4 linked regions of the Homo sapiens genome follow. The protein of the gene in region 1 interacts with the protein of each later gene in a biochemical or structural test. Each region holds a gene or a part of one and is shown in the gene's direction. Other genes may lie near its edges. The genes, in order: PRKAA1, PPM1F, AGAP2 and MYL9.

The links.
Region 2: of the proteins of PRKAA1 (region 1) and PPM1F, one has a biochemical effect on the other in vitro, tested with the Homo sapiens proteins (one study listed by BioGRID).
Region 3: the proteins of PRKAA1 (region 1) and AGAP2 form a complex in vitro, tested with the Homo sapiens proteins (one study listed by BioGRID).
Region 4: of the proteins of PRKAA1 (region 1) and MYL9, one has a biochemical effect on the other in vitro, tested with the Homo sapiens proteins (one study listed by IntAct).

The regions. Positions count from the first base shown.
Region 1 is NC_000005.10:40,787,744-40,792,795, reverse strand, and holds part of PRKAA1 (5'-AMP-activated protein kinase catalytic subunit alpha-1), read left to right. Parts: intron 1-2,591; exon of another isoform or gene 2,592-2,725; intron 2,726-2,762; exon of another isoform or gene 2,763-2,844; intron 2,845-5,052. UniProt on the Homo sapiens protein: Catalytic subunit of AMP-activated protein kinase (AMPK), an energy sensor protein kinase that plays a key role in regulating cellular energy metabolism.
Region 2 is NC_000022.11:21,924,260-21,929,311, reverse strand, and holds part of PPM1F (protein phosphatase 1F), read left to right. Parts: intron 1-3,649; coding exon 3,650-3,743; intron 3,744-5,052. UniProt on the Homo sapiens protein: Dephosphorylates and concomitantly deactivates CaM-kinase II activated upon autophosphorylation, and CaM-kinases IV and I activated upon phosphorylation by CaM-kinase kinase. Promotes apoptosis.
Region 3 is NC_000012.12:57,724,109-57,729,706, reverse strand, and holds the end of AGAP2 (arf-GAP with GTPase, ANK repeat and PH domain-containing protein 2), read left to right. Parts: coding exon 1-68; intron 69-1,329; coding exon 1,330-1,389; exon of another isoform or gene 1,390-1,621; coding exon 1,622-1,770; exon of another isoform or gene 1,771-1,935; coding exon 1,936-2,026; exon of another isoform or gene 2,027-2,124; coding exon 2,125-2,347; exon of another isoform or gene 2,348-2,477; coding exon 2,478-2,733; exon of another isoform or gene 2,734-2,742; intron 2,743-2,912; coding exon 2,913-3,155; 3' UTR 3,156-4,510; downstream 4,511-5,598. UniProt on the Homo sapiens protein: GTPase-activating protein (GAP) for ARF1 and ARF5, which also shows strong GTPase activity. Isoform 1 participates in the prevention of neuronal apoptosis by enhancing PI3 kinase activity.
Region 4 is NC_000020.11:36,546,941-36,551,992, forward strand, and holds the end of MYL9 (myosin regulatory light polypeptide 9), read left to right. Parts: intron 1-1,091; coding exon 1,092-1,253; intron 1,254-2,136; coding exon 2,137-2,309; 3' UTR 2,310-4,507; downstream 4,508-5,052. UniProt on the Homo sapiens protein: Myosin regulatory subunit that plays an important role in regulation of both smooth muscle and nonmuscle cell contractile activity via its phosphorylation. Implicated in cytokinesis, receptor capping, and cell locomotion.

The DNA.
Region 1 (5,052 bases):
CCACCATGCTTGGCCTAAGTTCGTAAGTATTTCTGTGTAAAACTGCAATTTCAGCTACATAGGTACTTTGTGAATGAATCATAGTAGAAGTTATTTAAAAATTCCTTTAAGTAAAAATTATAAACATGAACTAGAGCTATATATATCAGTGTGAATGAATCTTAAAAATATAAGGTTAGACCTCGAAAGCAAGTTGTATAAGAATATGTATAGTTTGCTGTTATTTATATAAATTTTAGAAACCTACAGAACCACTCATACAATGCTGGTAGAGTATAAATTGGTATCCTACCTCTACATGAGAGAGTGACAGCATTTATTAAAATTAACCTAACAATTCAACTTCTAGGAATTATTTTATAGATGTACTCGTGTATGAAATAATGGGTTATTCGCTGCCATATTGTTGTAAATATTAATACAAAACTTTCGAAGTAACCTTTCTAATAGTAATAGTTATGGTTTATCCATATAGTGAAATACCTTGCAAACATTAAGGAAGAAAAAGGGAGGAACTTTGTATATTTTAGAGAACAATTTCCAAGGTGTATTTTTAAGAGGAAAAAGTAGAACAGTGTGTTCAATATGCCTACCACTTATGTATAAAAGGCAGGGGCAAATCTGTATCTTAAATGTGACTGCTTTTATATATAGAGTATGTCTCTTTAAAGATACACACAAGACTGGTTACGTTAGTTGCTCAGTATAGGGGACTAGGTAAAGGAGGACATTGTGTTGCACCATAGATGCTTTTGTACTTTTGAACTGTGTGTATAGTGCAGGTATTGTGTTATCAAAATATATGCAATGACATTTGTAAAAATAAATATGAAAAATAATGTTACTATATTTTTTATGGATTCCTACCCATGTAAAAATATTTAAACGTGGGAAACACAAACACCAAATTCAGGATAGTGGTTACTTCTGAGGACAGATGAAGGATAAGGGAATCTGGGAGGAGTCATGCAGGGCTTGAGTTGTATTTGTAATGTTTTATTGCTTAAGCTGATGGTGGCTCATGGGTATTTGGAATGCCCTTGGTGTGCTTGAAATGTTTGTTTGCTTTCTTAAATTACGATCTATAGCTTTTAAAGCCCACCCTTCCCCAGGATTAAGCTATTTCCTTAACACGTTTTTATTCTTTCAATTTTAAAGTGGGAATGAAATGGTTAGGTGTCTAGAATATCTTTAGTAGATATTTCTATCTTTGCTGCTTCTCTGTCCTATTAAAATCCTCTGTTTCAAAGTATGATCTTGTTTCCCTTCAGGATTATATATCTAATTAGAAGAGCATTTGTTACAATGTTATGCAGTTAGACAAAGTTCCCTTTAGATAGCAATAGCATGGTTGTTAGCTAATATTTAGTTGACTAATCTGCTATTCTTGTGAGGGGGACATTGTGAATGCTGGTAATATTTGCTCTGAGTAATGTGCAAGTCTTCCGTGGCCAAAATATCTGTCTTCCGTTTCATTTAAAAGCAAAACCTTAGCACTATTCTAAAAACTGACAGTCTGAAGAATAAAGTTTGAATTTTGAAAAAGGGGGGAATCCCTTAGTAGTGCATATGCCTGACAGAGTCCATTTACTACATTCATTGATTGACTATGGAACAGCATTTAGTTTGGCTACAACTGAGTTTACTCACTGGGGAGAATATTTAGCCTGGTTTTGAGAAAACAGTTTAGTTTCTGATACCATGCCAAGCCCTTTGTCCCTCTCACTGCACAGTGATGGTGGGGAGAGTGGATAGGTCAAAAGACTTGGGAGTCGGAAGACCTGTCCCAACTTGATCACAATAGCTTTACTTCCACAACTTACAGAATCTCTTAGAGCCTCAGTTTCTTTATCTGTAAAAGACAATACCTCCATCATAGGTTTATGCTCAAATGTGATAATGTGAGTGTCTCCTAAGCTATTAGATGCCATATTTTAAAAAGTATTATGCTACTGAAGGCCGGGTGTGGTGGCTCACGCCTGTAATCCCAGCACTTTTGGGAGGCTAAGGCGGGCAGATCACGAGCTCAAGATATTGAGACCATCCTGGCCAACATGGTGAAACCCCATCTCTACTAAAAATACAAAAATCAGCTGGGTGTGGTGGCATGCGCCTGTTGTCCCAGCTACTCGGGAGGCTGAGGCAGGAGAATTGCTTGAACCCCGGAGGCAGAGGTTGCAGTGAGCCGAGATTGTGCCACTGCACTCCAGCCTGGCGACAGAGCGAGGCTCCATCTCAACAACAACAACAACAACAAAAAAAAAAAAAAAGAAAGAGTTGACTCCTGATAGACTATGAAGGCTGGGATACAAATTCAAAAAGCGGAAAACCACACGAGCTGGAACACTATAGGCTGGGAGCAAAAAGCCCTATCCTGCTAAATAACTCCCACTGCTGTCACTGTGTGAGGGTATAAGGAGCAGTTGATACTCATAAGTTAACATTTGTTTGGTTCCCAGTCTTCATGTACATGTGTTCCATTTAAGAAGTCATGATCATGTGTAGTACAATTAGAAAACCTGTTTTCAAAAAATATTACTTCTGTTAACTTGTTAATTTTAATGGTGAATATCATAGTTTAGAAAATCCACCCTCCTTTTCTTGTCAGGGACTGAGTGTGTGGTCCTGCTCCTGTTATGTATGGAGGCAAAGGGAAAGGGCTCCGGCCCCCTCAAAATCATGTCTTTGGTGCCAGCCGGTTCTGTTCTCAGTCACCTGGATACTGAACTTTCCTGAGCAGGGCAGAACTGAGATCCAGTGGGCTTCTCCCCAGGATGCTTACGCTTTTTCATTTGATTTCAGGTCTCCTCTTTCGCTTCCTATTGCAACCAATGAAGGCCATTCCTACCATAAGTAAATAAAAAAGAAAATCTATCTTTAATAAATAACAATTGTATATATTTATGGGGCACAATGTGATGTTTTGATACATGTATACATTCTGCACTGATCAAATCAGGCCAAGTAGTATATCCATCTCCTCAAATATTTATCATTTCTTTGTGGTGAGAACATTTAAAGTTCCCTTTTTTAACTCTTTTGAAAAATTAATATATTTACTGTAATCATGATGCTATGCAATACAACACCAGGATCCTGTTCCTCCTGACTGTAATTTTATGTAGCCATTGACCAATATCTTCCTTTTCCCCTCCAGCCCCACTTACCCCAGCTACTGGTAATCACCATTCTACTCTCTACTTCTGTGAGTTTGACTTTTTTAGATTCCAAATATAAGTGAGTCTCAGACACCTCTGACATACTGATTTCAATTCCTTTGGATATATACTCAGTAATGGGATTGCTGGATCATATAGTAATTCTATTTTTAGTTTTGTGAGGAACCTCTACACTGTTTTACAAAATGGCTGTATTTATAGTTTCACCAGCAGTGTATAAGTGTTCCATTTCTCTGTGACCTTGCTAACACTTATCTTTCACCTTTTTGATAATAGCCAGTCTAACAGGTGTGAGGTGATACCTTATTGTGGCTTTAATTTGCATTTCTCTTATGATTAGAGATGTTCAGCATTCTTTCATCTATCTGTTGGCCATTTGTTTGTCTTTTTTTTTATTTTTATTTTTGAGACAGTGTCTCACTCTGTTGCCCAGGCTGGAGTGCAGTGGCATGATCATGGCTCACTGCAGCCTTGACCTCCTGGGCTCAAGCGATCCTCCCACCTCTGCCTCCCAAGTAGCTGGGACTACAGGCATACACCACCACGCCTGGCTAATTTATGTATGTTTTATAGAGACAAGGTCTCACTGTGTTGCTTAGACTGGTCTTGTATTCTTGGGCTCAAGTGATCCACCCGCGTCGGCCTCCCAAAGTGCTGAGATTACAGGCATGAGCCACCATGCCTGGCCGGATATTAGCTATATATCTGATGCATGATTTGTAAATACGTTTTCTCAGTCTTTGGGTTGTCTCTTCACTCTATTTGTTTTTGCTTGTTTGTTTGTTTTTTTGAGATGCAGTCTCCCTCTGTCACCCAGGCTGGAGTGCAATGGCGTGATCTTGGCTCACTGCAGCGTCCGCCTCCCGGGTTCAAGCGATTCTTTTGCCTCAGCCTCATGAGTAGCTGGGACTACAGGTGTGCACCACTACGCTCAGCTAATTTTGTATTTTTAGTAGAGATAGGGCTTCACCATGTTGGTCAGGCTGGTCTCGAACTCCTGACCTTGTGATCCGCCTGCCTCGGCCTGCCAAAGTGTTGGGATTACGCGTCTGGCCTGTTTGTTTGTTTTTTGCTGTTCAGAAGCTTTTTAGTTTGATGTCATCCCATTTGTTTATTATTGCTTTTGTTGCCTGTGCATTAGGGGATCATATACAAGAAATGATTGCCCAAACCTGTGTCATGGAGCTTCTCGCCTAAGTTTTCTTCTAGTAGATTTGTAATTTCAGGTCCTAAATTTAATCCATTTTAAGTTGATACTTGTTAAGGGGTGAGATAAGGGTCCATTTCCATTCTTCTGTATGTGGCTATCCAGTTTTCCAAATGACATTATTGAAGAGACTGTCCTTTCCACATTGTGTAGTCTTGGCACCTTTGTCAAAAATCCATTGATTATAGATATATGCATTTATTCTGGGCTATCCATCCTATTCCATTGGTGGACATGTCTGTTTTTATGTCAGTGCCGTGCTGTTTTAATTACTATAGGTTTGTAATATATTTTCAAACATGGTAGTGTGATGCCTCCAGCTTTGTTCTCTTTGGACCTAAAGTCTATTTTGTCTGAAATAAATATAGCTATCTCTGTTCTCTTTTTGTTTGCATTTGTATGGAATATCTTTTTCAGTCCCTTCATTTTCAGTCTATGAGTGTCCTTTATGGTGAAGTGAGTCTCTTTATAGGCAGCGCAGAGTTGGATCTTGTTTTTTATCCATTTAGCCACTCTATGCCTGTTGTTTGGAGAATTTAATCTGTTTACATTGGAAGTAATTATTGATAGGTAAGGACTTAGTAGTGCCATTTTGTTAATTGTTTTCTAGTGTTTCTGTAGAACCTTTGTCCCTTTCTCTATTACTTTCCCCCTTTGTGGCTCGAT
Region 2 (5,052 bases), on another chromosome or scaffold:
TGGCTGCAGCCCGCATGGGCCAAGGAGTTCAGATCCAGTGCCCCCCACCTCCCCTTTCCTGCCGCCATGCTCTGTAGGCTTGGCCCCTCCTGCTGTGATCCTGATCACAGCCTTCCACCCTAGAGAATTAATCACAGATCCAGGCCAAGGTTCTCCCACAAAAACAAGCATCATGTCGGTTACAAGAGCAAGAAACTGGCCTCAACTTGGCGAGCTTCAACGGGGGTCCAGCAGCGGCCCAGAGCAGCTTCCAGGAGTACGTGGGGGGAGTGCGTGGTGCTCTGCCTTGTTCTGCGGCTGTCTGAACAGTCTCCTGCCTCTGCACTCAGTTCAGCCTCCAAACACTGAGTGCCCACTCTGCACAAGATACTTTGTTGAGGCAGTGAGATAACACAGGACCCACTTCCTGCCTCTAAGTCTAATGGGGGAGCAGGAGGAGGGCAAGGACCTGGCAGGATGAGGCAGAGAGATGAATGGAATGGAGCCGCATCTCAGGCAGTTGCAATTCCTGCAGGCCAGGGGAGAGACCAGGAGGAAAGGGCAGGTTATGCCAGAATCAGGGCCAGGTGTGGAGGTGTGCCCCAAGTGATCCTCCCACCTCTCAAGCCTCAGGAGACAGGAGGATGGCTTGAGCCCTAGAGGTTGAGGCTGCAGTGAGCTATGTTCATGACACTGCACTCCAGCCTTGGCAACAGAGTGAGACCCTGTCTTCAAAAAACAAAAACAAGCCCCAGAATCAGTGGGTAGAAGACTCGGGGCAGGGGAGAAGACCACCCACCTGCTGCTCCTTCAGCTGGAAAAGCTGGACTGCCCCAGGCTGGGAGGAACTCTGTAAGGACTCACTAGAAGCTTCTGAAGTGATCAGGCCACTGGAGGACAAGTTGAGGGCTGGGTCACAAAAGTGAGTTCAGGAGGGCAGTGAGAGTCACTCAAGGTCACAGGTCACGCTGGCACGCCTGGCAGGCAGCCTGGGAGAGATAGGAGTCCCGGCTCTGCAGGTGGAGACATCGCAGAGGGCCTTGGGCATCCAGGAGGATGGCAGTGCCATAGGCGACGCTGCTGCGGCCTGGCCGTGTGGAGCACTGCACTCCTAGGAAGCAGGAAATGGCTGTTCACAGGAACCCACAGGCCACCGGCTCCAGCTTTGACCTGGGAAGCTGTTTCAGGCAGGTGGAGAGGATGAGGTTTGAGGAGCAGAGGGAAGAGCTGCTGAGGGGGTGGGCGCTGGGCAGTCGGGAGGCGAAGGCAGGAGATGGCTTGAGCCCTAGAGGTCGAGGCTGCAGTGAGCTATGTTCATGACACTGCACTCCAGCCTTGGCAACAAAGCAAGACCCTGTCTCCAAAAAAAAAAAAAAAAAAAAAAAAAAAACAAAACAAAAAACAGAATCAAGAATCAGTGACTAGGAGACTCAGGGGGAATGGGACAAGACCCCTTAGCCTGGGGATATGTTAGTCCCGGACCAGACTGAGCCTGGCCAGTGTGTGACGGAGGTGGGAGCCACTGGAGGGGAGGAGGACCCAGGTTCAGGGCCAGGGTTAGAGGGGCGAGCCCGGGGAGCCGGCGCAGCCTGTCCAGCACAGGGGGTGCAGAATGGCAGGAGAGGGGATCACAGGCTGCAGGGGAGCAGCACAGCCCCTGTGCCCTCCTGCCCTTTGGCTCCACCCTGTCCCACAGCCATCCCTGGTGGTGGGGAGGGGCTTCAGGTAGGAAGGTTCTAAGCTTAGCCTGCATGGCCCCCTGTGGGGGAGAGCCACCTCCAGAGGGCATGGGAAGCAGATTGCCGTTCATTCTCCATCACCTGCCCACATTCCTGCCTCTGGGACATTGAGGGGCTGGAGTGGGCTGGGGTGTGTGGGAGACAGAAGCAGAGAAAGGCTCCTCATTCTCCCTGGAGCCTCCCACGCTCACAGCCCCTCCCCAGGGAACGCCTCTGAGGCACAGGGGAGGAGGCGCTGCTTCCTCTGCAGCTCCTCGCCGTCTGCAGGCGCCTTCACGCGTGTGTGTGGGCACATGTATGTGTGAACATTCGTGCGTACTCTGTGTTCATCCACCTGCCTCTCCCCGTGCCCTTTCTCCTGCCCTCTTCTTGGCTGTCTCCTGCTCTTCCCTCCTTCCTGGTCCTCCTTGCCTTTCCCTTGCCCTGCTCAGACCCCGGAGGTGGCAGATCTTAGACCCAGAGAGAGCCTTGAGGTCCCTGTTCCTGCCCCCTTCATGGCTTGATTCTCCACCTCAGCTGGGACAGGAGCACCCAGCCTACCAGGCACTGGTCCAGTTCCCACACAGGCTCATGGCTGCAGTGCCCAGGAAGGCCGGGACTCCTGCAAACCCATGTCATTCCCACCACAATGCCCTCTGCAGGGGAGCCACATAAAGAGGCCTGGTCCTTGGTGCAGGCATCTGGAGAGGGCTGCCTCCCCCAGGCCTCCCGCAGTGCATGTCCGTCTGCTCTGGGGAGGGAATTGGCTGATATCCCAATCTGTCTAGGGGACACCATCACCTGGGGCATCAGAGTTCTCATGCCCAGCTGGTGCTGTGCCTGGGGACTAGAAGGGCTGGTGCTGCGTGGGGTCAAGAGGTTTACCTGATAAACCGGTAAGGGATGCCCTCTTCCCCCAGTAGACTTGGGAGGTGCCTCACTCCCAGGGTGCCTCCGTCACTCTGTCAGGGATGCTGTTGTGCAGGCTTCAGTCAGCAGGCTCTCATCGGGGCAGCCTCTCCTTTGGGCAGAGGCTGATAGGACCAAAGAGGTTTCTAGAGGACTTGTGGGTGGACCAAGCCTCTGTCCTGTCCCTGGAGGAACCCAGGCCTGGGGTGTTGTGGTCCCCAGCTGAGTGGAGACTGTGCCTGTGCTGAGCTTGGGTAGAGGAGGACAAGAACTAGGCCAGGCGCGGTGGCTCACACCTGTAATCCCAGCACTTTGGGAAGCCGAGGAGGGTGGATCATGAGGTCAGGAGATCGAGACCAGTCTGGCCAACTTTGAGAAACCCTGTCTCCATTAAAAACACAAAAAAATTAGCTGGGCATGGTGGCACGCCCCTGTAGTCACAGCTACTCAGGAGGCTGAGGCAGGAGAATCACTTGAACCCAGGAGGCAGAGGTTGTAGTGAGCCAAGATCGTGCCACTTCACTCCAGCCAGGTGACAGAGCGAGACTCTGTCTCAAAAAAAAAAAAAAAAAAGAACTGGGCGGGCACAGGCTGCCGTCAGGGCCTCGCTCAGGCTTCCCTGCTGTGTGACCACTCACGTCACATGCTCCATCTTGGCCCAGCAGCTTTCAGGGCAGAGACGGTGTCCCCGAGCTAGAGACAGGGAAGCAGAAGGATCTGCTGTCTGTGTCGGGCTCGCAAGCCTCGTGAGTGCCTCCCTGACCCAGAATGCTGCCCAGGGGCGCAGGCACCGCTAGGCGGCCTCAGGTGGTCCGTTCATTTCACCATTCCTGCAACTAAAGGACTTGTGGGTTGTGTATAATTTCTCACTGTTTTTGATGAGCCTCGTTTGGGTGCATCTCTGAGCCTCCTGGCTTTGTTCCAGTGCTGCGGCTTTGAATGCTGCTGTCTTAGAAGCAGCTGTGCCTCTGCTCAGGTAGCAGCAGGGGGCTTCACGCCCCATCCCCCCGGCCCTGCCCCCAACTCTGGCTGTGTTTCTGCAGGATGAGAAGGCGCGCATTGAAGCATTGGGTGGCTTTGTGTCTCACATGGACTGCTGGAGAGTCAACGGGACCCTGGCCGTCTCCAGAGCCATCGGTGAGAGCCAAAGAGGCCGACCCAAGTGGGAGAAGGTCTCTCGGAAGCCCAGGCCTCGAGTGTGGCCCGCGGCTCACCAGGGGTTCAGGGAGGCAGTGTGATGGGCCGAGGGGGATTTGTCATGCACTGGGGTGATACCCTCGTAGTGTGAAGGGAACAGGGCAGATTCAGAGACTGCAGCACCAGTGTCTGAGTGTAAGTTACACTGTATGTTATTATCTCACCTAAAACAGCTCCTACAAATCTCATAGAAACCTGTGGCTCACCACCCTATGGGCTGGAAGTAGAGCTTCCAATATTCCGGAAATGAGGTTTATCCTCCTCCCGCGTTCATGCTGACAATCCTTTTTTCTCTTTTGGGAAAAAAGTGGGTTCGCTGGGCGCGGTGGCTCACGCCTGTAATCCCAGCACTTTGGGAGGCCGAGGTGGGTGGATCACCTGAGGTCGGGAGTTCGAGACCAGCCTGATGAAACCCCATGTCTACTAAAAAAAAAATACAAAAAATTAGCCAGGCATGGTAGTGAGCCCCTGTAATTCCAGCTATTCAGAAGGCTGAGGCAGGAGAATCACTTGAACCCAGAAGGCGGAGGTTGCAGTGAGCTGAGATCGCGCCACTCCACTCCAGCCTGGATAACGAGGAAAACTCTGTCTCAAAAAATAATAATAAAAATAAATAAAAATTTTAAAAAGTAATGGGTCTGGCTGGGCATGCTGGCTCACGCCTGTAATCCCAGCACTTTGGGAGGCCAAGGTGGGCGGATCACCTGAGATCGGGAGTTCGAGACCAGCCTGGCCAACATGGTGAAACCCCTTCTCTACAAAAAATACAAAGTTAGCCAGGTGTGGTGGCACGCGCCTGTAATCTCAGTTACTTGGGAGGCTGAGGGAGGAGAAGTGCTTGAACCCAGAGGCGGAGGTTACAGTAAGCGGAGATCGTGCCACTGCACTCCAGCCTGGGCAACAGAGCCAGACTGTGTCTCAAAAAAAAAAAAAAAAGTAGCTGGGCGCGGTGGCTCACGCCTGTAATCCCAGCACTTTGGGAGGCCAAGGCGGGTGGATCACCTGAGGTCAGGAGTTCGAGACCAGCCTGACCAACATGGTGAAACCCCATCTCTACTAAAAATACAAAAAACATTAGCCGGGCGTGGTGGTGCCTGCCTGTAATCGCAGCTACTTGGGATGCTGAGGCAGCAGGATCACCTGAACCCTGGAGGTGGAGGTTGCGGTGAGCCAAGATTGCACCATTGCACTGCAGCCTGGGCGACAAGAGCGAAACTCCATCTCAAAAAAAAAAAAAAAAGTGGGTCCA
Region 3 (5,598 bases), on another chromosome or scaffold:
GAAGAAGCAGAGGAGGAAAAAATTGACAACACCATCCAAGACTGAAGGCTCGGCTGGGCAGGCTGAAGGTGAGGCTCTGGCAGGCACTTCCACTCCCACCCAGAACCCTCATCCCCAACATCAGCTCCCTGGCCTAACTCCTGCAGCAGGAGGAAAAGTGCCTGAGCTGAGTGCTTGACTACCATTACCACTGCACACAACTTAGTGAAAGAGTGGATGGACATCCCCCAGCCCCTGTCCTTCTTTCCTTGTTCCCCAGCTAATTCCTTTCCCCAGCCCCTGTTCTCAACGATGTCCATGTCTATAGCTCCTGCTCCCTCTCCTAATGACGTTCTAGTTCCTCTTCCTTCCCTCAACTCCACTTACCACCCCAGCCCCTGCACCCGGCAGCCCCGCTGATCCCCAGTGATTCAGCCCCTTATCTCAGCATCTCCCACTGATTCCCCAGATCCTGGATTCTGTGACCACCCAGCCCCTTCTCCCAATAACTTTCTTTCTTTTTTTTTTCTTTTCTTTTTTTTTTTTTTTTTTGAGATGGAGTCTCACTCTGTCACCCAGGCTGGAGTACAGTGGTGCGATCTCGGCTCACTGCAAGCTCTGCCTCCCGGGTTCACACCATTCTCCTGCCTCAGCCTTCCAAGTAGCTGGGACTACAGGCACTTGCCACCATGCCCGGCTAATTTTTTGTATTTTTTAGTAGAGACTGGGTTTCACTGTGTTAGCCAGGATGGTCTTGATCTCCTGACCTCGTGATCTGCCCGCCTCGGCCTCCCAAAGTGCTGGGATTACAGGCGGTGGGGATTACAGGCATGAGTCACCGTGCCCGGCCTTCTCCCGATAACTTTCTATTGCCAAGTGCTCCCCAACAGCCCTTGACCATAGTGATCCCCATTCTTGTCCCTCAGTGATTCCCCGCACCCCCACCGCCACCAGCCCCAGGGCCCTCTCATCTCAGCCCTGCGCCCCAGCTTCTGTCCCCTTCCCCCGTGTTCACTCAGATCCTGACCCTCCCTTCTTCTCCCAGAGGTCCAGCTCCTCGCTGGTCTTGATAACCCATCCCTGCTGCCCCTGCTCTCTGCCGGGTGCTCAGACCCAGGTTCCAGATCTGCCTACTCTCATGGCTCTTGGCTTCTGTTCCACTCTGCTCCGGGGCCACTGACTTTAGTTCTGCTTTCTCTCCCCATCTGTCTGTCCTGCTTTGTCTCTGGCACTCTGTCACTATCTCTCTCCATCTCTCCATCTACCTGTCTTTTTCTCCTTCTTTCTTGGTCTCTCTTTCTCTGTTCTGCTCTCCATTCTATCTCTATCTCCTTCGCTTCGGGAAACCAGCCAAGCGCAAAATGTGGAAACTAAAATCCTTTGGTAGTTTAAGAAATATTTATAAAGCAGGTAACAAGTGGGGAGCCGGGAGGGGCGCTCAGCTGGGGTGCAGAAGGGTGGGGGTGCCCCCGCCTTCCCCTGCATGTGCTCGGGCTTCCTGCTGCCCCCCACCCTCTGCTTTCCCTACCCCCACTGCCCCACTCCCAGGGGCTCGGGATGGACATCAGGGAGGACGGTCTTGGGAAAGGCAGCCCCTGCTTGAACTCTGTCCCTTAATGACCCCATCCCATCCCCCACTCAGAGGAAAACTTTGAGTTCCTGATCGTGTCCAGCACGGGTCAGACGTGGCACTTTGAGGCAGCCAGTTTTGAGGAGCGGGATGCCTGGGTCCAGGCCATCGAGAGTCAGATCCTAGCCAGTCTGCAATGCTGTGAGAGCAGCAAGGTCAAGGTAAGAGTTTGAGGTGGAGTGGAGGACTGGCCGCAGGAACTGACCCTGGTGCTGACGGCCATTGGCAACGACACGGCCGAAGTCGTGTGAGAGGAGAGCAGAGGTGTCTGAGAAGGAGGTGGGGCTTGGAGGCAGAGTCAGTGCCAACCCAAACCCTCTCTGCAGCTGCGCACAGACAGCCAAAGCGAGGCCGTGGCCATCCAGGCGATCCGGAACGCCAAGGGGAATTCAATCTGCGTGGACTGCGGGGCCCCCAGTGAGTGCCAGGAGGCAGCGGAGGGGCTAGGGAGTGTAGTGAATGCCGGGGTGCCTGTGCTGCCCGGCTGGGAGCCGACCTCTACGCTCCTTCCGCAGACCCCACGTGGGCCAGCTTGAACCTGGGCGCCCTCATCTGCATCGAGTGTTCTGGCATCCACCGCAACCTGGGCACACACCTGTCCCGCGTTCGCTCGCTGGACTTGGACGACTGGCCACGGGAGCTGACCCTGGTGCTGACGGCTATTGGCAACGACACGGCCAACCGCGTGTGGGAAAGCGACACGCGAGGCCGTGCCAAGCCCTCGCGGGACTCTTCGCGGTAAGCGTGAGGGAACAGAGCGGGGGGAGGGTTGCTGAGGGTGTGCGAACCTGAGACGGTCCCGTGGGTAGGGGCAGAAGTCCTGGCTGGGGGTCCCTAGAGCCTTTTCCGTTGATCCCTGGTCTTGCAGGGAGGAGCGCGAGTCGTGGATTCGCGCCAAGTACGAGCAGCTACTGTTCCTGGCGCCGCTGAGCACCTCGGAGGAGCCGCTGGGCCGCCAGCTGTGGGCCGCCGTGCAGGCCCAGGACGTGGCTACCGTTCTCCTGCTTTTGGCCCATGCGCGACACGGGCCGCTCGACACCAGCGTAGAGGACCCACAGCTGCGCTCCCCACTCCACCTGGCGGCCGAGCTCGCCCACGTCGTCATCACGCAACTGCTGCTGTGGGTACGTGAGCTGGGGGGAGGAAAGGGGGTCTTTGAGGCTTCATCTCGGAAAACGCCTGGCGCGGGAAAGCCCGAAATTCCCAGAGGGACCCCGGAAGTAGGCTTGGCCATGTGGGGGAGGCGGCGCCGGGTGTGGGCGCCCTGGGGACGCGCGGTCACGCGGCCGTTTCCGCCCTCTAGTACGGCGCGGACGTGGCGGCCCGTGACGCCCAGGGCCGCACGGCGCTGTTCTACGCCCGCCAGGCTGGAAGCCAGCTGTGCGCCGACATCCTTCTCCAGCACGGCTGCCCGGGTGAGGGCGGCAGCGCGGCCACCACGCCCAGCGCGGCCACCACGCCCAGCATCACCGCCACGCCCAGCCCCCGCCGCCGGAGCAGCGCCGCTAGCGTGGGCCGCGCCGACGCCCCGGTTGCGCTGGTATAGTTGCCCAGCGGGAGAGACACCCCCATCCCCACGCGGGCCGGGCACGACCACACCGGGCGGACCGCTGGACAGACGCACCCACTCACCTCTCCGATCCGCACCCCGCCCCACGGGAGCACTTCCTACCCCCACGAGGGCACAGCCCCCACGCCTTCCAGAAGACACAAACTCACCTCCCTCTCCCCAACGAGGCATGGAGACCCCAGCTCAACACGCCCCCTCTCCATTGTTTCCACACTCGGATTGCTCTGGGTCTACCCGCTCGGGGTTCGCGGAAGGGGAGGTCCCCAGCGGTACGGGCTCCTAGGCGCTTGGACATGCCCGCTTGTGCCCCCTAGGGGCGGAAAGAAGACCCGGTCCTGCCCGAGCTCAACAATCCCAGGGCGGGAGCCCATACCCAGGCTGGCTCCTGGGGCGACGCCACGCCAGAGGGAGGGTTTAGTACATGGGAGGGCTAGCCCCGGGACTTGGGGCCAATACGGAAACCCTACCCCTTCCATGCTCATCTCACTGCCCAGTGAAGGGGGCAAGGGCAGCGAGGGGCAGGACCCCTGCTGCTCATGGGGGTGGGGGTTCCCAACCCTTTCCGTGAAAGGGACCGTGAGTAGTGGAAACCAGGACGTCCCCTACACCTACCCATGGGTGGAAGCTAAAGAGTCCGGGGGGAACCAAGAGCCTGGGTCCCTCCCACTACTATCTTGGGAGGGAGAAGGGATGGAGCAGGAGCGGGCTAAGAGGGCTGCGGGGGCCTTGTAATTTATTGCTTTGTTCCCCAACATGGGGATGGGGGCGGGCAGGGGCGTGGGGAGGGCGTTTTGGGGTAGGGGAAGCCCAGGGTGGGCAGGGGGTGGGTTGGGGTGGGGGTGCTCTCGGGTTGTGTCTGTGACCGTGACTGCGTACCTGTGACTGTGCAGCGCCCGTGGTGATCTGGGGTAGGGGGCACCCCTACAGTGGGACCCCTCCCCCATTATTCTTTCTGTCCAGCCCCTCCCTCCCACTGGAGCAGCTCCAGAGCCATTCCTCACCCCCGTGACCTCTCCCAGCCAGGGCTGAGAGGATTCGAGGTGGCTGGGAGGGTTTCCAGGCCCCCTGCCCCTTCCCCACAAACTGGGTGATAGGGCGGACTTACCTGGCCCAGCCCTGCCTCCCTCAGCCAACCCAGCCCTTGGGCTGTCTGTGTCAGTGGTTTCCGGTCTTTTTTTTTTTTTTTTTTTCTGGCTAAAATAGTTTGCAAAGGACCAGGTAATTGGGGAGGGGAGAGAGGTGGGGGCAAGGGGGAAATGCCCCCCCATCTCCTTGGAGGCAGTGGTGTGAATCTTCTTCAACAGCAATTAAAGAGGAAGTGATTTTGTCTAGGGGGTGAGCTGCTGGTCTGTTCTTGGAGGCAGGTCAGGGCATGGCCTTGGTCAAGATGGGGTACTGGGGTTGGACAGGGACAGGCAGAGGTGCCTCCCACTGGGGCTGGTGGCAGGACAGTACCCATGGGCATGGAGGTGGTTCCATCATGTACAACAGTTCTGGGTTCATGTAGTGGAGGACGTGGGCAGGTTGGAGTCAGTGGGGACCCTGGGAACAGAGAAGGCACTGACTCTTAAGATGATGCCAGTCCTGGGAGAGTTGGGATATGGTACTTAGAGGAGAGGACAGGCCCATGGAGAGGGGTGGGAAGATGGGACAGCTTTGTTTAAGAGCAGGAACTTTGGAGACAGATCTGATTTTGAAACCTGCCCCTCCACTGCACAGCTAGGGGACCTTGGTGGCATCTGTTTATCTGTATTCTGAACAGTATCTGTTCAGAGGGCACCTGAAAGGCGCTCCAGCTCTGAGGAGGGCTGCCCCGAGCCAGCCTGCTCACCGTGAGCACTAGGTACCAGAGTAGAACATAGAGTAGGGGTTCCTCCCCTGGCCTCGTCAGGGGGTGTTCCAGAGGGAAGGGGTGGGAGACCTCCTGGGAAAGATTTCCCAGCTAGCTGCAGAGGTCCCTGGTGTCCACAAACTCAGTGTCAGCTGATGCAGGCATTTATCCACCTCCGTGCCATCAAAGGGACCACCAAGGCCACAGCGGCCTGAAGCCGGTGCTGCCTCCATGAGCTGCAGTGCCACTAGGCTCAGCACATAGCCAATCCTACCATTTCTCGAGGGCAGCTGAAAGTGTTTACTCAGGTAGAGGGGCTGGACAGGGTAGGGTTGGGTCAGCAGCCAGTGCAGGTTGGGCACAGCCATATGTTGTTATCTACCTTGAGGAGTTAGTTGGTAGCACCAGCATCTTTGGGTAGAATTGCTTCTGACCCTTGGTGCCCACCAGCCCCAAGAGGTTCAGCTGCAAGTGTGCCACTGAACTGAGGACACAGCACCAGACCTGAATCCAGTTCACATGGAGGCTGCGGCTCTACAGGGTCCTAGGCTGTGACCACCCAGCACAGCGGCGTGACCCAGGAAAGGT
Region 4 (5,052 bases), on another chromosome or scaffold:
ACTGAGGCCTGGTGAGAGAAGGGGCTGGCCTTAAGTACCCCAGTGTCCTGGCGTCACAGCTCCTCTTGGGCCTCAGCTTCCATGGCCATCCCAGGGGGACACAGCAGGGTATGTGAGGCTCAGGGACATGAAAACTTCCTATTTCCAAGGCCACACCCTGCACCCAGGCCCCTGAACCCCTGAGACTTCATGACAGCCCTGGGTGTCCACCCAGAAAAACATGCACTGTGTTTGTAGCTCATATCCGTGGGTCTGCAGGTGAGTCACACCCTTATCTTCAAGTTAAAAACAAGAGCAGCAAATATAATAATAAGAAGAAGCCCTGCAGGTATTATCTTAAATCTCAAAGCAATCCTATTGAACAGATACAATTATTCCCACTTTACAAACAAGGAAACTGAGGCTCAGAGAGGTTAAGTAATTTACCCAAGGTCACACAGCTACCAAGTAGTGGGGCTGCAATAGAAACCCAGCAGTTGATTCCAGTCCATAGGCCTGTGCCAGTCATTGTTATGAGCCTTTTGCAACTACTGTCTTCACAATTCCCCTAAGAGATGGGGAAAACCAAGGTGCACAGCTGGGATCCAAACCCAGGCCTGTCTGACAGCAAAGCACTGTGTCTGGACTTTGGAGTTAGGCTGCCTGGGTTCAAATGCCAGGTCTACTCAAGTCTCCTCCTTACTTGCTGTCTGACCCTGGACAAGTCACCTGGCCTCTCTGTGCCTCAGCTTCCATACCTGTGAAGTGGGTAAGAATGCTGACTTCACAGGGTGGTGAAAGTTAAATGCAATAAGGCACGTGGTCGACCAGCCACAGCGAGCAGTCTGCAGAGGGTTGTTCTTATTACACTTTAGTGAGCACTGCCGGCTGCTGACATCCAGGCCACAGGAGGAAACTGGTGGGAGCAGCCAGGGACTCCGGGCGCCCACTGCTGTGGCTGCGCTAGAGCCATGCTTTCCAGTTCACAAAACCCACTACCTCCCGTCTCACACGGAGCGGTGAAGGGCAGGGGTGGGGGACGGGGGTGCAAGTTGTCCCAGCTGGGGACAGAGGGCCCAGGACCACAGGCTGGAACACCCCACCTGCCACAGGGAAGAACCCCACAGACGAATACCTGGAGGGCATGATGAGCGAGGCCCCGGGGCCCATCAACTTCACCATGTTCCTCACCATGTTTGGGGAGAAGCTGAACGGCACGGACCCCGAGGATGTGATTCGCAACGCCTTTGCCTGCTTCGACGAGGAAGCCTCAGGTCCGTGGCGCCCCCTACCACCACTCTGCATGCAAGTGGAACAGGGCCCAGGCATTCAGTGCCTCTGCCCCTAAGGGCCAGAACAGACATCACCCATCTCCCAGGTTCTGTCACCAGAACTATAAAAGCCAGGCCACCTCCTTATTGTCGCCGCAAAGGCTAGGCCAGAACAGCCCATGCCCCAAGACTCCTGCCTTCGTGATCTCCCCCGCTGGCCCAATGCACATTCTCCATCTGTTTTAGACCTTTCCAGAAATCAAACCATTTCATGCCTTTCTTGCCAAGAAGGTATAGAAACTGGCCCCCCTCCTCGGATCTCCTAACGGATATTCCATCCCTCAGCTCATTTTTCCCAGGGACATGTCAGGGTGATGATGGCCATGGTAACATGGCCATGGGCCCGCACGGGCCTGACTACCTTCACGGTCCCTCACTGCAATGGCATACGTTCATCCCTGTTTTCTAGATTAAACAGGCACACGGAGGTTAAGGACCTTGCCCAAAGTCACATAGCTAGGGAGAATGGGAATCAGCACTGCAACTCAGGCAGTGGAACTCCAGAGCTCACGCTTAAAACAGGGCACACCCAACACCATCTGTGTGCACAGCCTCAAGTTCCCCAAGTGACACCTCGGAGACAGTCCCACTGCACAACTCCTCCCCTCAGGACCCTGGCACCCCTTCACGTGGGATCCGACACCCCTTCACGTGCACCCCCACACCCCTCCTGCCACGTCCTCATTCCTCAGACTGACCAGAGACTAAGATTGTATCTTCCCAGCCCCTCTAGGTCTGCAAGAGCTGCCAGGGGGCTGAGGGATGGGGCTGCTGTGTATGTCTCAGCCCAAGTTCCTGCTCTCACCCACCCTGCCCCTGCCCGCAGGTTTCATCCATGAGGACCACCTCCGGGAGCTGCTCACCACCATGGGTGACCGCTTCACAGATGAGGAAGTGGACGAGATGTACCGGGAGGCACCCATTGATAAGAAAGGCAACTTCAACTACGTGGAGTTCACCCGCATCCTCAAACATGGCGCCAAGGATAAAGACGACTAGGCCACCCCAGCCCCCTGACACCCCAGCCCCCGCCAGTCACCCCTCCCCGCACACACCCGTCCATACCAGCTCCCTGCCCATGACCCTCGCTCAGGGATCCCCCTTTGAGGGGTTAGGGTCCCAGTTCCCAGTGGAAGAAACAGGCCAGGAGAAGTGCGTGCCGAGCTGAGGCAGATGTTCCCACAGTGACCCCAGAGCCCTGGGCTATAGTCTCTGACCCCTCCAAGGAAAGACCACCTTCTGGGGACATGGGCTGGAGGGCAGGACCTAGAGGCACCAAGGGAAGGCCCCATTCCGGGGCTGTTCCCCGAGGAGGAAGGGAAGGGGCTCTGTGTGCCCCCCAGGAGGAAGAGGCCCTGAGTCCTGGGATCAGACACCCCTTCACGTGTATCCCCACACAAATGCAAGCTCACCAAGGTCCCCTCTCAGTCCCCTTCCCTACACCCTGACCGGCCACTGCCGCACACCCACCCAGAGCACGCCACCCGCCATGGGAGTGTGCTCAGGAGTCGCGGGCAGCGTGGACATCTGTCCCAGAGGGGGCAGAATCTCCAATAGAGGACTGAGCACTGCTTCTGGTCTGTGTGTCTGTGGCTGGGGTGAAGTAAGGGGACCCCGGGCCTGAAACCCTCTCCCACCTTCTCCTGCCATCTCCAGTTACTGCCCTGCTCCTCCCACCCTGGCCCAGGGAAGGACTGGGTGTCCTCCGGCCATATGGTCCCTGAAGCCTCTAGGGACCAGAGTCCCTAGTAAGTGGGCTCTGTGCTCAGCTGAGACCAGCAGGGGACAGGGGACGGAGGGAATGGGCCTCATGGCCTTCTCAGGGCTTGTGGGAAAGGGAGGACCATGGGAATCACCACAGCCAATCCCGTGGAGGGTTCCAGGCCTCTTGGGGGGCAGAGGTCAGGCCACACAGCCCTCAGGACTAAAGCTCCGGGTTCCAGAAGAACAGGGAGGCTCCAACAGTGATGAGGCAGGCGTCCCAGCAGCTCAGGGTTGGAGGTGGGAATGAGGGGTTTCCCAGCCCCAGGCAGGTGGAGGGCGAGTTCAGCCCCAGGACCAACAGCATGGGGGCCACAGCTTTCCATGTCCCTGTGTACGCAGGGCAGGCAGGGCCGGGACCCCTGCTACTGGTGGATGATGGGGACACTGATGGCAGTGCCTGGGGCCTAAGAGGGGCAGAAAGAGCGCTGAATGACTGAGCAGAGAGTCCAGAGGGGCATGGACTGCCTGGGTCACCCAATAGGCCTAGGGAAGAGTGAGGGCCGGACCCACCCCACCTGACCCCAGCGAGTGGACCCAGCTTGGTCCTGAGGCCTTCTCCAGAGGTCACCCAGCGCAGGCAGCCGCAGCACTCAGCAAAGGTCCCAGATCAGGGCCAAGGGGGAGCTGAGCACCAGGGGACCCTGTGCCTGACCAGGAGGCCCTAACCTCCTGCAGGCCTCAACGCCAGGCCCTGCTCAGAGCTCGGCTGAAACTCCTCATCCTGGCTCCAAACAGAGGCCCAAAAGTCCCTGGTATCAACTCCAGAAGGGGCGAGACCCGAACAAGTTCCAAACCAGGCCCAAATAGTATCCCAAACTCAGTCCCAAACACATTCTCACCCCCGGCAGCAGGCTGCAGGCCTCCAGCTACACACACGGCCCTGGGCAACTCTCAGTCTGGCCACCCATTCGATGCTGCCAGCCCCAAGGGTGTGGGAGGGGGGTCTCAGAGTGTCCCAGGGTACTGGCCACACATGCCCGACACCAGGGTCATAAGGTCCTCTCAGCAGAGCCACTGCAGCACCAAAGGCATTTCTGGAAGGAGGCAAGGACGCGTCATCTAGATGTCAAGCCCCAGCGTGCGATTCTGTCACAGTTCACCCCACCTTCACCCCGAGACGGAAGACGGAAGAGCTTCGCACACAGGCGGGAAGAGGTCAGGACCAGTCCAGCCTCACTGGCTTCAGAACTGGCCTGGGGGCTACCTTGACCCACAGGAAGGGAAGAGGAACGTGCTCTGGGCAGGGCAAGGCAGGACCTGCAGCACCCACAGACCAGCAGTAAAGGACCCCCGGAACTTTCCAAGTCTAGCACAAAACCCAGAAGCCACAAAGGAAAATACTGGCAGATTTAAATGCATGAAGTCAACATTCTTTTTGTAGAGCTAAAGAAACCATAAGCAAAATTAAAAGCCAAATGCATTCTGGGAGGAAATACCTGCAGCATATTTAACAAAACAAGAGTTAACACTAATCTATATAAAGCTTCAGTAATTGAATCAGAAAAAGACAACGCCGTAGGAAAAAAATGGTAACATGAAAAGGAATCTCAGAAGAAATGCATATACTTATTTTTTTCTTTTTTTTTTGAGACAGAGTCTCGCTCTTTCTCCCAGGCTGGAGTGCAGTGGCGTGATCTCGGCTCACTGCAACCTCCGCCTCCCGGGTTCAAGTGATTCTCCTGCCTCAACCTCCCAAGTAGCTGGGACTACAGGTGTGCGCCACCACGCCCAGCTAATTTTTGTATATTTAGTAGAGACAGGGTTTCACCATGTTCGCCAGATGGTCTCCATCTCTTGACCTTGTGATCCACCCACCTTAGCCTCCCAAAGTGCTGGGATTACAGGGGTGGGCCACCACGCCCGGCCAAAATACATACACTTAATAAGAACATTTTAAATACTCACCAAATACATTTTTAAGTGCTCAACATCATTGTAAAACTGTAAAATTTTCTATTTTTTCCTAGTATTTGTCTAG